Linked DNA regions of Homo sapiens. The protein of the gene in region 2 interacts with the protein of the main gene of each other region in a pairwise test. Each region holds a gene or a part of one and is shown on either strand. Other genes may lie near its edges.

What was found.
Region 1: the proteins of CALML6 (region 2) and PCP4 interact in binary tests that used the Homo sapiens proteins (3 or more experiments, as listed by UniProt).

The regions. Positions count from the first base shown.
Region 1 is NC_000021.9:39,870,437-39,877,470, forward strand, and holds part of PCP4 (calmodulin regulator protein PCP4), read left to right. Parts: intron 1-7,034. UniProt on the Homo sapiens protein: Functions as a modulator of calcium-binding by calmodulin. Thereby, regulates calmodulin activity and the different processes it controls.
Region 2 is NC_000001.11:1,911,289-1,917,827, forward strand, and holds CALML6 (calmodulin-like protein 6), read left to right. Parts: upstream 1-3,971; 5' UTR 3,972-3,992; coding exon 3,993-4,019; coding exon of another isoform or gene 4,020-4,085; intron 4,086-4,396; coding exon 4,397-4,447; intron 4,448-5,152; coding exon 5,153-5,327; intron 5,328-5,463; coding exon 5,464-5,608; intron 5,609-5,685; coding exon 5,686-5,786; intron 5,787-5,858; coding exon 5,859-5,905; 3' UTR 5,906-6,008; downstream 6,009-6,539.

The sequences.
Region 1 (7,034 bases), on a different chromosome or scaffold from region 2:
CTGGATCAGAAATCTTAACCATCACAGCCTCAGTTTACAAGGTGCATTCTTTCTCCCTCATCGTACTCACCCAGGCACAAGAAAAATGACTACCTTTGTTCAGCCACTTCATAGAGCTTTTGAAAAAAGAGTTCCTGGAATAATGACAGTCAGTCCCACGTTCTCCTTTAGGTGTCTATTTTTAAGTTGCTTTTCAAAAGAACTCATTTAGGAGAGCTAGGGGCAAGGTTGGAAGGCATAAGGACAAACATCTGAGCGTGAATTTAAAAACGTGACGCCCTTGCCCTGTTTAGGGTGCGGGTTGGAGACGTTCCAGGTCACGTAATCAAATGACAGCTATTAATTGGACTTGAGACCCCTTTGGGAAAAGCCTCTTCGTAACCCCGAGTTTCACGGTCATGGGCTGGGCTTTTTTCTTGCTTTGGCGTGGATGGGAAAGTGCAACTCAGTACAAGGGCTGTGGCTCTTTCTTTCGTCTAGACATTGGCCGCAGGGCAAGGCGATGCCCATCAAAGGCATGGTTTGAAAAACATCAAGGACATTTAAGGGTAAATCTTTAGATACACATGTCTGTTCTTAGCACCCAAACAGAATCCATGTCGAACTTAATGTATACGTTAAAACGTACAATAATCTCTAAAGGAAGAAGAAAGCTGTAAATGGCATTTTTCTTGACAGAGATTGCAAACGGGAGGCTACATGCAGTTAACTCGTGAGGTGAGGACATAGAAAAAACATGAATTAAAAAAATGTTTTGCCACTGATTTTAAAATATCATACATACAACAGTGGTTTGGGGCTTACATAGTTGACTCTCACGATTGCCCAGTGGAGGGACTAAGGTTAAAACGAAACAGATCCTAAGAAGAGAAAGATTATGGCTTTGAGCTTCTTACAACGTAAGGGTAAACTCAAACAGATGCTAATGGGTGGCTGATTAGATTTGTAAGGAGCTGTATATTTTAGACCAGTTGTTAAGCACAGATTCTGAGGGTGACTGCATAAAATGTGGGTTTTGCAAATGGTCTGCAAAACCCAGCAACAAAGGTCAAATGACAATTCAACTTCTTATGTAATTATAACCCCATTTGAGGGTGTACCTGCAGCAAGGACTCTGACAGATCAAGCAAGATCAGTTTTAGTTTCGTTGGACAACACCATGAAAGATACTCTTTCCTCTAATTGGGGATATTAAGTCCACATAGTCACCAGTTACAATCTGGGTTTGAAGTTCAACTTTTCCTAATAGAGAAGAGGTCAAAATTAAGCAGGAATATGTGTTTCCCAGGGCCGATGATTGTTAAGAGTTGCCATAAAACTTGTTTCCCCAGTCATGCATTCTATGAAGAAATGCTGTGGGGTTAAAAAGTCTCAGGTTTTCTCTTTTGAATTTTAAGAATGACACAATGCAAGATGTATATTTTTTTTTCAAAAAGAAAATAAATGACTCATTATTGATTTTATTAAAGGTTTAGTGAAGTAGTACGATCAAGATGAAAAGAAAACATGTTTTTGTAATGGAAAGTTTCTTAAACTTATGATGAGCACATTCTTTGTGTTATTTATTTACTTATTTATTTGAGATGGAGTCTCTCTCTCTTGCCCAGGCTGGAGTGCAGTAGCGCGATCTTGGCTCACTGCAACCTCTGCCTCCCAGGTTCAAGCAATTCTCCTGTCTCAGCCTCCTGAGTAGCTGGGACTATAGGCTCCTACCACCACGCCCAGCTAATTTTTGTAGTTTTAGTAGAGACAGGGCTTCACCATATTGGTCTGACTGGTCTCGAACTCCTGACCTCAGGTGATCCGCCCGCCTTGGCCTCCCAAAGTGCTGGGATTACAGGTGTGAGCCACCGCACCCAACCTGCGTTATTTTTTAAAATTCTAATTTCTACTCTCAGTGTTTCATTAGAGATGTGATCGGGGGAAGGCATTCACAATTTGTCTATGGTCCTTCTGTTCTTAGACCACTGGACACATTGAACTATTTGGACGCACAGATAATATCAGGACCTAAGCCTGGGGCTTTTCATTAATTTAAAATGACTTTCTAGAAAGGTCTTCATACTGGGAGAAAAGAAGAATTTTAGGGGATGCATGCATACAGGTTTATGTTATATTTAATGATATTTTTATGAAACACAACATTAAATATCCTGCTGTTAAAGTATTATAGGCTGCATAGTATTGATTAGAAGCATCCCAGACTGTGAACTTCCCAAAAGGGACAATTTTATGTCATTCACAAGTCTGACTGCTGGTTGGGCACTTGGTAAATGTCCAGTTACTGAATGAATAAATAAGTTTTGGGATGTGGATTTATCAGTTGCTGTAATCAATAGGCCAGGCACCCTCTTCTCTAAATGTTGAGGCTTGTGGTTGGGATACATTTGGGAAAGTTGTATTCCATCTTTTGTTCTTTACTCCTGGTTTGAAACCTGTGTTTGCCATGTAAATCCTTTTATGTGGGAAATGGGTGCATTGTTATATACGCAACATAAGTGCTCTCATGACAGTAAAAGAAAATGAGAAAAAATAAGAAGGATCTCAACAGAAGGACCTCTTGACATTTGGGAAAATGTCAGGGAAAATATGGGAACGGAGCAAGGGACGTAGAATTCTAATATCCTATGTTTCCCTGTTGTCTCCATTGAGACTAGCTCACTTCAGATAAGCTCAATGAAACTCAAGCAAAAGAGACTGTAGCCAGAGAGGCAGAGCCTGTGAATACCTTGGAAAGTGGTTTGCTGTATTGAAACAGAAAACCAATTTGACTGTGATTAGAAGAGAATAAGAGAGAGTCTAAGCAGATCTGTAGTAATATAGCCCCAGTGCCCAATCTCCATCAGCCCAGTTGTAAACTCTGGCATATTGTTGAAGGTAAACATCTAGCACGCGGAAAGCAAGTTCCATATTATTGCAAGGAAATAATTTAATTATCATCTAAAATTAATTCTTAATAGCATACTCATAATATTAATTAAAATAAATAATTGATATTTGAATATTTAAATATTTTAGTAAATTTATATTTGAAATAGGAATATATGAAAATTTATATGCAAAAAGGGATGGATTCAAATTTCTTTTCTTGGGGAGTTCGAAACTGAATTGCACGTCCATATCCCCATGTGATTAATCTGATAGGAGCTCTGCTTTCCTATCATCCCCAGGGATGAACTATTTACCATTCTTCTTCCCATTTTTCAAATGAGGTGCAATGTGAACAATGAATACAGAAACGTTTTCCAGTCACCTGGCACAAGGGCCTTTGGGGTATAGATATGGGAATGTTCGATAATGGATTGTTTTGTGCCACAAACAAAGCAAGCTTGCCACAGTCATCAATGGCTCAAACCTATAAATGCCACATTCATGTTGGGGCCATTCTACATGAACAATTTAGCATAAGCCACACATTCCAGGCATGGGTCTGCTTGTATATTGTTTATGCCTCACAAAGAGCTCTGAATTTATGCTTCAGAATCTCACTGAATTTACTGCTCATTCCATTTCTGGAAGGGAAACACTTGGCCCATATTTATGACATTGCCAGTAGAAAAATCAATCACCCACTAAATGCCATTATTTTATATTTTACTCTTAACCTGCCATTTTATAAATGAAAGGAAGACAAATTAGACTCATAAAGCAGGAAGGTAATCATCCACAAATTGAACATTTAAGGGCAAGGAAGCAAAAGCTGTGAACTGTTCCAACCATTCAAATAAGGCAATTTTCCTCACAAAGGAGCTAGAATAGAGAGCAGGGGAGTCCCTCTCTTCAAGGTTTCTGCCCTCCATTTTAGGACAGTCTTGGACTTGGATGAGACTAAAACGTCTCCAGCCATACACGAGTCAGACCTCTTCCTCGTAGTTCAAAAGACAACTTTTGAATGTTAAATATTATTTACGACGGTTTGATAGCAAAATGGGATCCAGATTGGCTTGAGATCACGCTATTCCTGGTATAACAATCCAAGTCTGTGGTATAGTGGCATGACAAAAGACACAGTCATCTGTTCCCGTAGCACCACATCTGTGCTTTGGTCAATAATCGAATGAAGTAATGGTTATTTTAATTTTATATGACCTCTGAGAAAAGGACTCCAGAAGTTAACAAGACCCATTAACATGTGTCTTAATCAAATAAGAGTAAAAATATAACAAGGAAACACAGAAACACAAGAGGGAGAAATAATATAATTTCTTCCTTTTTTTTCAAGATCTTTTTTTTTTTTCTAAAAAACAATACAAGCATCTGTTCATCAGGTGGTTAAGTTCTAGTATTTTAAAAAAAAACCTAGTTAAAAGGTTACACCTGCTTTAAAATTTATGATTCTTATGTACAGTAGCTCCCCCTTATCTTCAGATGCCCGGTGAATGGCTGAAAGTGTGGGTGGTACCGAATCCTACACATGCTATGCTTTTTCCATCCGATAATACCTGAAAGTGCTGCTAAGTGGCTACGGGCAGGTAGTGTAGACAGTGTGGATACGCTGGGCAGATGAATGATTCATGTTCTTAGACAGCAAGCGGTTTCATAACGCTACTCAGTAGAGTGTGCAATTTGCAACTTATGAATTGTTTATTTCTGGGATTTTCCATTGAATATTTTTGGACTGTGGTTAGCAGCAGGTAACTCAAACCTCAGAAAGTGAAACCAAGGAAGGTTAAGGGGGAACTACTGTGTGCAATTTCTTTATTAAATAATAGCCACTGTTTCGTTAGGAGTTGTTAGAGAAATATCACTTTTTTTTTTCTTGTACCCAGCAAAATGACTAATTGTATTTAGGGTTTTCTTTTTCAAATTGTAAATTTTCTCACAGTTTTTTTTTTGTTATGCAGAGAAATCTCTGATGCAATGAATGGGTCAAATTTTGAGCTGAGTGTGGCTGTGTGACAGCATCCTGGGTGCTGGTCTCCTCATCTCTGAGGGGTGACAGCATACACACAGACACTGGTGCTGCCACAAGTCTGCCCATGTCCAAGACGGGCGATGGTGTGGAGCCTTCCTTTACAGATCATAACTCTGCATCTTCCAGAGAGTTTTAGGTGGAAATAGCAACAAGCAAAACTTCAAACCATTATGCCATAGTGAGATCTTCTCCTTAAAACAATAAGGGTGACTTGACGTGATTTTATCCTCTTGCCTTCTATGACTTTCCACAATTGTGGTTGCTCTAACAACAACTGTCTGTTTTAGCATATCAATGTTTTGGGAACTATCTTTTCAATCTTCCTGCAGATCCATAACAGAACTATGGAATAGTGTCCACAATGACTAAGGATATCAATACTCCCAAGTTTTTGATAGTGTACCTTAATAGGGAAAAAATTTGACCATGTATACACAACAAATTTTTATTTATTTTACAATTATGTATACATGCGAATATGCCAATATAGTAAGAGTTAATCATTAAAGGAAGGGTAAGGAAATCTGTAATTCCAATAGACTTTTTGGTAACTGTACTTCTTTTTGAGTCTAATTTGATGGCTGAGGTTTTTAAGCTTGTATTGGTGCCCATGAAGACATCCTAAGAAAAGAAGGTTTAGTTAGTGCTTCTATCGTTTCCTTGGTGTTTGTGCTGATGGTGTTAGTATTATTTTCAGTCTATGATTTAATGCAGAATTTTTCAATTAAATCTGAATATATATTTAATTGAAATATATATTAAATATATAGTAAATAATATATATATGATTTACTATTTTAACCACTTTTAAGTGTACAGTTCAGCGGTATTAATTACATTTACACTGTCGTGAAACGGGTCCACAGAACTTGTTCATCTTTCAAAGCCAAGACTCTGCACCCATTCAACAACCACTCTCCATTACCCCGCCCCTATCCTCTGGCAAACCCATTCTATTTCTTACCTCTATCAGTTTGACTACTTTTGGTACCTCCTGTGCGTGGAATCATACAGTATTTGTCTTTTTGTGACTGGCTTATTTTACTTAGCATAATGTCTTCAAGGTTCATCTATGTTGTGGCCTGTGACTATATAGGACATTTTAAAAGCCACTTACCTACTGTGGGAAGATTAGTTTAGTTAAAGGTAGATTGTATAATCTGTAAATCCTCTTAATGGAACATAAGGAACTGCAAGGTATCACATGATGATATTCTGAGAGCAAGTCAACAGGCAGTGTGTCTGGGACAATCTCCCATTGTGGGACTCCTACTCTTTCCTACCCACCAAGTGATGATGTCATTATCAATCCAGATATTAGCTATGAATGAAACCTAATTTTTAAATTGATCTTAGATCCTACACAAATATAAATAGAAATTCTAAAGTCTTCTTTACCATGAGTGTTTGTGGCAGTGAAGCACCTTACAACCCCAGAGGTGCCGTTGACACTGTGGTCTGTGCCAACAGCACTGCCTGGAGTTGTGCTGTGAACAACCTATGCCACTGAACATGGTGGCTCTGCCCTTCCTTGAGTTGATGTCAGCCTGCTTAAGGACGGTTGACCTTGAGAAAGGCTGTCGTTTTTATAGTTCCACTTAGAATTCAGGGAATCAGAGAAGGGCATCGTTGTCATTTCATTCAAAGTGGTCATTTTAAAATAGGGGACTGAGTGTCCAACGATGAATCTTGTGCAGAATCACAGAGCTTCTTCAGAGAAAACCTAAGTTTCCTTTCCACATTTTCCATGCTATTACATTTCTCATTTTCTGGATACAACCTAATTTCTTTTAAACCTGTCCAAATTCCACTTAGGGTTTGCACAAGTAATTTATTAAATTAAAATTGTCCTGAATATTTTTATTAGCCTTGAGTAAAAAAAGAACAGCCACAGAAATCTTGACAAAGCCATTGTTTTGTTCATCAGGTCTTCCACTCTATTTCTAGGGATTCCAGCTTCCACCCTGACACCCCCAGCCTCCCATCCCGTCACACACAGAGAAGCTGAGAAATGTTAATAATGCTTCCCTGTGGAATGTTTCATTAAGACCCTTGTTGGGCATGGTGGCTCACTCCTGTAATCCCAGCACTTTGGGAGACCCAGGTGGGAGGATTGGTT
Region 2 (6,539 bases):
GGTCCTCCGAATCGCTGCCCTCCCACTGCAGAGTGGAGAGCAGAGATGCTGCCTGAACCACAGAGGGCCCCCGACGCTCACACTTGGGCTCACCCCTGGCTTTCAAGTGCCCCTTTCTCTCCTTCTACCATTTGTAGCCTCGATTGGTGGCAGTTACCTGGTCCATCCCTCTGCCCTTCCAACACACCACCAGTGAGTGTAACAGGTGACTGTGCAGGGGCTTGTGTCTTCGTCCCGCACTGGTGCCTGGTTGCAGCTTGGCAGCGGGGGGTCCACCGCCAACATCCATCATGTCACAGCTGGGGCTCCCCAGAAGCTGACCCTGAGATGGAGTTTGGGATAGGAGCTCCCTGTTAGGGGTCAGCCCCTGTGACAGGAAGGGGGAAGCAGAACCAGACAGAAGGGGTCCTAGACCACCTGCAGGGACCATCAGAGTCCTGCCTGTGGACACAATGACCACCTTGTGTCATGTGGCTCAGGTGGGGTGGGTTTGCAGCTGAGGCTGCTGCCCTGGAGTGGGGCGGGGTCTCTCAGTGTCTTCTCACTGGAGACCCTCAGTGGCAGTGGTGATGTCTGCGGTGACCCTCTGTGGTAGAAGCAGGGGGATGTGTATATGTGTGTATGTCTGTATATATACGTCTGTCATATACACAGACGAGAGAGATTTTGAGGAATTGGCCCGTGTGATTGCACTGTAGGCAACCTCCAGGGAAGAGCTGATGTTGCAGCCGTCTGGAGGCAGAATTCCTTCTTCCTTGGGGGACCTCAGTCTTTTCTCTTAAGGTCCTCAACTAACTGGATGCGGCCCCCCCCTACATTATGGAGGGTCATGTGCTTTACCCAAAGTCTACTGATTTAAATACTTTTTCTTTTTTTTTTTGAGGTGGAGTCTCGCTCTGTCTCTCAGGCTGGAGTGCAGTGGCACGATCTCGGCTCACTGCAAGCTCTGCCTCCTTGGGGTTCACGCCATTCTCCTGCCTCAGTCTCCCAAGTAGCTGGGACTACAGGCGCGCACCACCATGCCCAGCTAATTTTTTTATTTTTATTTTTAGTAGAGACGGCATTTCACCATGTTAGCCAGGATGGTCTCGATCTCCTGACCTTGTGATCTCCCTGCCTCGGTCCCCCAAAGTGCTGGGATTACAGGCATGAGCCACCATGCCCGGCCTACTGATTTAAATACTAATCACATCTATGAAACACCTTCATGCCCGCCCATATTCATTGCAGCAGCAGTTCCAACAGCCAAGAGGTGGGAGCACCTAAGTGTTCATCAGCAGATGGTGGATAAACCGAGTGTGGTCCATCCCGAGAATAACATTTTACTCAGCCTTAAAAAAGACGCCTATTCCAGGCCGAGTGCGGTGGCTCATGCCTGTAATCTCAGCACTTTGTGAGGCCCAGGTGGGCGGATCACAAGGTAAGGAGATCGAGACGATCCTGGCTAACACGGTGAAACCCCGTCTCTAGTAAAAGTATAAAAAATTAGCCGGACTTGGTGGTGGGTGCCTGTAGTCCCAGCTACTCGGGAGGCTGAGGCAAGAGAATTGCTTGACCTGGGAGGCAGAGGTTGCAGTGAGCTGAGATCGCGCCACTGCACTCCAGCCTGGAGATAGAGCGGGACTCTGCCTCAAAAAAAAAAAAAAAAAAAAAGTCGAATTCTTTTTTTTTTTTTTGGAGATGGAGTCTCACTCTGTCACCCGGGCTGGGGTGCAGTGGCGCAATCTCGGCTCACTGCATCCTCCACCTCCCAGGTTCAAGCAATTCTCTGCCTCAGCCTCCTGAGTAGCTGGGATTACAGGCACCTGCCACCACGCCCGGCTAATTTTTTTATTTTTTTATTTTTTTTAGTAGAAACAGGGTGTAACCATCTTGGCCAGGCTGGTCTTGAACTCCTGACCTTGTGATCCACCCACCTCGGCCTCCCAAAGTGCTGGGATTACAGGCGTGAGCCACCACACCCGGCCCCCGGAGTCGAATTCTTAAAAACAGAAAGTAGAATAGTGATTGCCATAGGCTGGGGGGCGGGGGGTGGTGGAAGAGGGCAGATGCTGTTTAATGGGGGCGGGGGTCCGTTTTGCAAGGTGAAAGGTTCTAGAGATCTGCTGCATAACTGGGTACGGCCATGAACACAACTGCACTTGCACCTGAACGTGGCTGAGGCAGCATTCTAATTGTTACAGGGTTTTTCTCTTTTTCTGTTTTCTTTTCTTTTCTTTTTTTTTTTTGAGATGGAGTCTCGCTCTGTTGCCCAGGCTGGAGTGCAGTGGCGCGATCTCGCCTCACTGCAAGGTCTGCCTCCTGGGTTCACGCCATTCTCCTGCCTCAGCCTCCGGAGAAGCTGGGACTACAGGTGTCTACCACCACGCCTGGCTAATTTTTTTGTATTTTTTTTAGTACAGTCGGGGTTTCACTGTGTTAGCCAGGATGGTCTCGATCTCCTGACCTCGTGATCTGCCCGCCTCAGCCTCCCAAAGTGCTGGGATTACAGGCGTGAGCCACCGTGCCCAGCCTCTTTTTCTGTTTTCTTATGGAGAATAGCCCTTCGGTGATCAGAAGAGACACAAGAAGGAAAATAAAGATTGGATGAGTCTCAGGTCCTAGAGATACGGGGTATGTCCGAAGGCCACACAGAGGCTGGTCAGCATGAGGAGAGAGGGTTAGAGGGCGAGGACCTGTTCTGCTGCTTGTACTGGGTCTTGGATATGGGTAGAAGCCTAGATGGAGAGGAGAGAGGTTGATGGTGGTTGTGGCCATGTTGCCCCTTCCTACGGGCGGGGCGGGGGGTGTGCCCTCTGCTTTAAGTTGGGCTCCAGGGGTCACAGCTTTGAGTTTCACTCGTAAGCCCATCAGGATGTCTGGAACCTTCAGGGCTGTGGCCCAGGAATGTCAGACGCTGGAAGCCTGGGAACGGAGGAGGCAGAGCCTGCTGTCCACTGGCTGTGAGAGTTGTTGGGGTGGGGACTTGTCCAGGGCCACGAGGCCAGTGCAGTTCTCTGTGTCTCTGTACCCAGCTGGCCTGTACCTGGAGACCCTGAGCCAGAACCCAGGATGGGCCCTGGCCTGGGTGCTGCGGCTCCCTCCATTCTATGCCCCTGGGGGAAGGTGCTCAGTGCGTGAATTGTTCCCTGCCCCAGCCCAGGGGAAAGCTGAGGCCAGGGAGCAGCCAGGATGAAGGTCAGGGCCTCCCTTGGCCCCACCAGACCCAGGGCCGCTTCCCTCCAGCCCCGGCTCCCGTTTGGCTGGAGGTGCCCTGGGCCATTGGCCTGCCCTCGTCAGCGTCAATCTTGCAGTCTCAGCAGCTGGCCTGGGTTTCAGCGGGAGCCATCCTGTAGCTGCAGGTTTGCTGGCAGGCAGAGGGTTGGGCTGGCGGGGGACACTGAGTGCCCCACCTGCTCAGACTCTTCATGCCATCAAGGGGCCAGTCGGGGGGCAGGTGTGAGTGTGACCCTGAGGGCCCTGACCTGCCACTGCAATCCTCACACTCTTGCCTGGGTGGGGCAGGGAGGAGCTGGACCCTGGCTTTGGGAGTCTGGTGGGTAATTAGACCCAGACAGGGAGGGCTCAGTGCGGGTCTGAGGAGGGAACACACGTGTGCAGGCGTGTGCTCCACGGTGGCATGTTGATACGGACCAGCCTGGGCACCAGGCCCCCTCGGGAGCCAGCTTTGCTGTTCTGAGTGGAAGGGAGATCAGGTTTCCCTGAGAAACCCCAAAATAGCCCCCAACTGTGCCTGGCTTCCAGCGGGCAGCCCAGCCCCCAGGCCCTGTTTTGCTCCCTTTCCCCCTTCACCCCCAGCCCATGTCCTGCTGTCTCCTCCCTGAATGGTGGACCCTCAGCCCCTCCTGTACAAGATGGTCAAGCGGTGCCTCATGCATTTGTTCATTCGACCTGTCCTGAGAGTTTGTGACATGCTGGCACGGGGCCAATGTTGAGTCCACCAGGATGGGAGGGTGGCCAGGCTCTGAGCCACTGAGCACCAGCTGGCCAGGATGGGTCTTCAACAAGAAATCTCACTGGTAAGTGATGACAGCATGGGACCAGGGTCCCATGAAGACCTGCTGGAGGGCCGCACCTCTGGGAAGGTAGACTTGGAGCTTGGTCCAGTGAAGAGGGAACAGCACGGGGAACAGCGTGTGTGAGGGTCCCGCCATGTCTCAGCCCTTTCCTGGCCCCCGCACTTAGCCTTCGGTGCCCATCTTCAGGGTCAGGGGAAGCCCAGGCCAAAGCGGGCCGGGAAGGGGCCCTGTGGATAAGGCCGAGAGCCTGTCCCAAAATAGGGCCGGCAGGATTTCCCACCCATAAAAGGCTCTTGGAATCTGGACCCCGGGGACCCCAGGCAGCCAGGCCCAGCTAAAACTCAGCTGCCACCACTGCCCCAGCACTCTGCCCACAGCAGCCCTGGTGTCACCACCCTGCAGAATCCTGTCAGACAACCACCGACATGGTAAGGCTGCTCTCTGTGCCCGATGGAGTCTCTGGTGGGCTGGCTGGGTAGGTTGAGCTGGAACCTGGAGGTGCAATGACCTGCCACGGAGCCTGGGCAGGAAGGGGCTGAGGTAGAAGAGGGGGCCAAGCCCTGCTGCCACCAACACAGCCCTTGTTCCGGGGCCAGGGTGGAGCAGCCCTTTCTGAAAGCTGGCTCCCAGATGGGCAGCAGCAGTGGTGGCAGGCAGGTGTGGCCCGGTGCTGGACTCTCCCTCCGGAATGCCACACAGGCTGGAGCCCAGGGTTCTGCTTCCTGGGCTGTATCCCAATCCTGGGCTGGAAGCCTTTCCCGGGCCAGGGCTGGGCTCCTCCCCACCCTGCTCTCGGCTTCCTTCACCTGCCTCACCTGGTGTCCATTGCCAGGCTCCAGGGCCGCTGCCTGGCCCGCCTGGCCCTGCAGCTGCTGCTGTTCCCTCGCACGCTGGCTCCTGCCTGTCTGGCCCTTGCCCCTGTTAGCTGCCTGGCAGAGCCCTGCTGGCCCTGCAAACCCCTGGCGTGTGACCCCTTGTCCTGGAAGCCTGCTCTCCGCTGGGGGCCTCCTCTCTTACCACTCACCTTGAAAGGCTGCCAATGGAGGAATGGGTGCAGGGGGTACCTCTGACCCTTCCCTGGACACAGGGGCAGAAGGGGCTCCTGGTCAGGCCGGTGCGGGTGTCCCCTGCAGACAGAGCGCCTGTCGGCTGAGCAGATCAAGGAGTACAAGGGAGTCTTTGAGATGTTCGACGAAGAGGGCAACGGGGAGGTGAAGACGGGGGAGCTGGAGTGGCTCATGAGCCTGCTGGGTATCAACCCCACCAAGAGTGAGCTGGCCTCAATGGCCAAGGATGTGGACAGAGACAGTGAGCTCATGGCTGGAGTGGGGTGGGCAGCCTCGGGGGGGCCCTGGGTCAGGTGTCAGTGCCTACGGGGGGAAGAGGCAAAGCCCATGGGGAGTGCTGTGCCCCATCCCTTGAGCCCCAGCTGTGCCCCTTGCAGACAAAGGGTTCTTCAACTGCGATGGTTTCCTGGCACTAATGGGAGTTTACCATGAGAAGGCCCAGAACCAGGAGAGCGAGCTGAGGGCGGCATTCCGTGTCTTTGACAAAGAGGGCAAGGGCTACATTGACTGGAACACACTCAAGTAGGGCCCGGGTTGGGGGCGGGTGGTGGGCGGGCACGGGCAGGGCCGATGGAGTGGCTCAGCGCCAGGCCCCGTAGGTACGTGCTAATGAACGCAGGGGAGCCCCTCAACGAGGTGGAGGCGGAGCAGATGATGAAGGAGGCCGACAAGGATGGGGACAGGACCATCGACTATGAGGGTGAGTGGCCTGGAGCCCTGGGAGCCGTTGGCTGGGCCGGGGCAAGCTGCTGACCTGCCCCTCTGTTCCCAGAGTTTGTGGCCATGATGACGGGGGAGTCCTTCAAGCTGATCCAGTAGGTGCAGCTGCCGCAGCCGGGGGAGGCCTGCCCGGGAAGGCTGCTGCCCCTGCCCCCTGGCCCCCACTCCCCCGGCTCCGTGTAAAATAAATGTTCCAGCCCAACCTGTGTGTGCCTCACTGTCCCAGCCTGGGTTGGGGGGCAACAGGCAAAGGCGTGGGGCTGGAGAAGGAAAAGAGTTTTCCTGGCCCAGTCACAGAAACAGCCCCAGTCATTTCTGCCACGACACCTGACACCACCCATTGCCCAGCTCAGGGCTAGGAATGCCAGCCTGAAACCTGGACTGGGTACAGGCCGGGGACCACACGCTCGCCCTTCCTGCTTGCACTGGGGGTTGGCTGCCCAAGGGTTCCTCCCAGAGCCCTGGAGTCCCAGAGTCCTTCCCACATAGGCAGAGACCACTTAAATACAAACTTTATTCTCTCTCCAAGAAGATGCAGACGTCACAGGTGGCCCTGAGCTCCCACCCGAGGCTTAGGCCCAAGGGGCCTCTTCCAGGCTGAGGGCCTGCTGGGGCTGGGCCAGGGGCTGAGGCTGAAAGCAGCAGCCTGCCTAGTGGGTGACGCCAGGGGCCGGTGTAACATGGCACCGAGGTTGGGGCCACAGCAATGTGTGGGACGGTGGGGTGGGCTGGG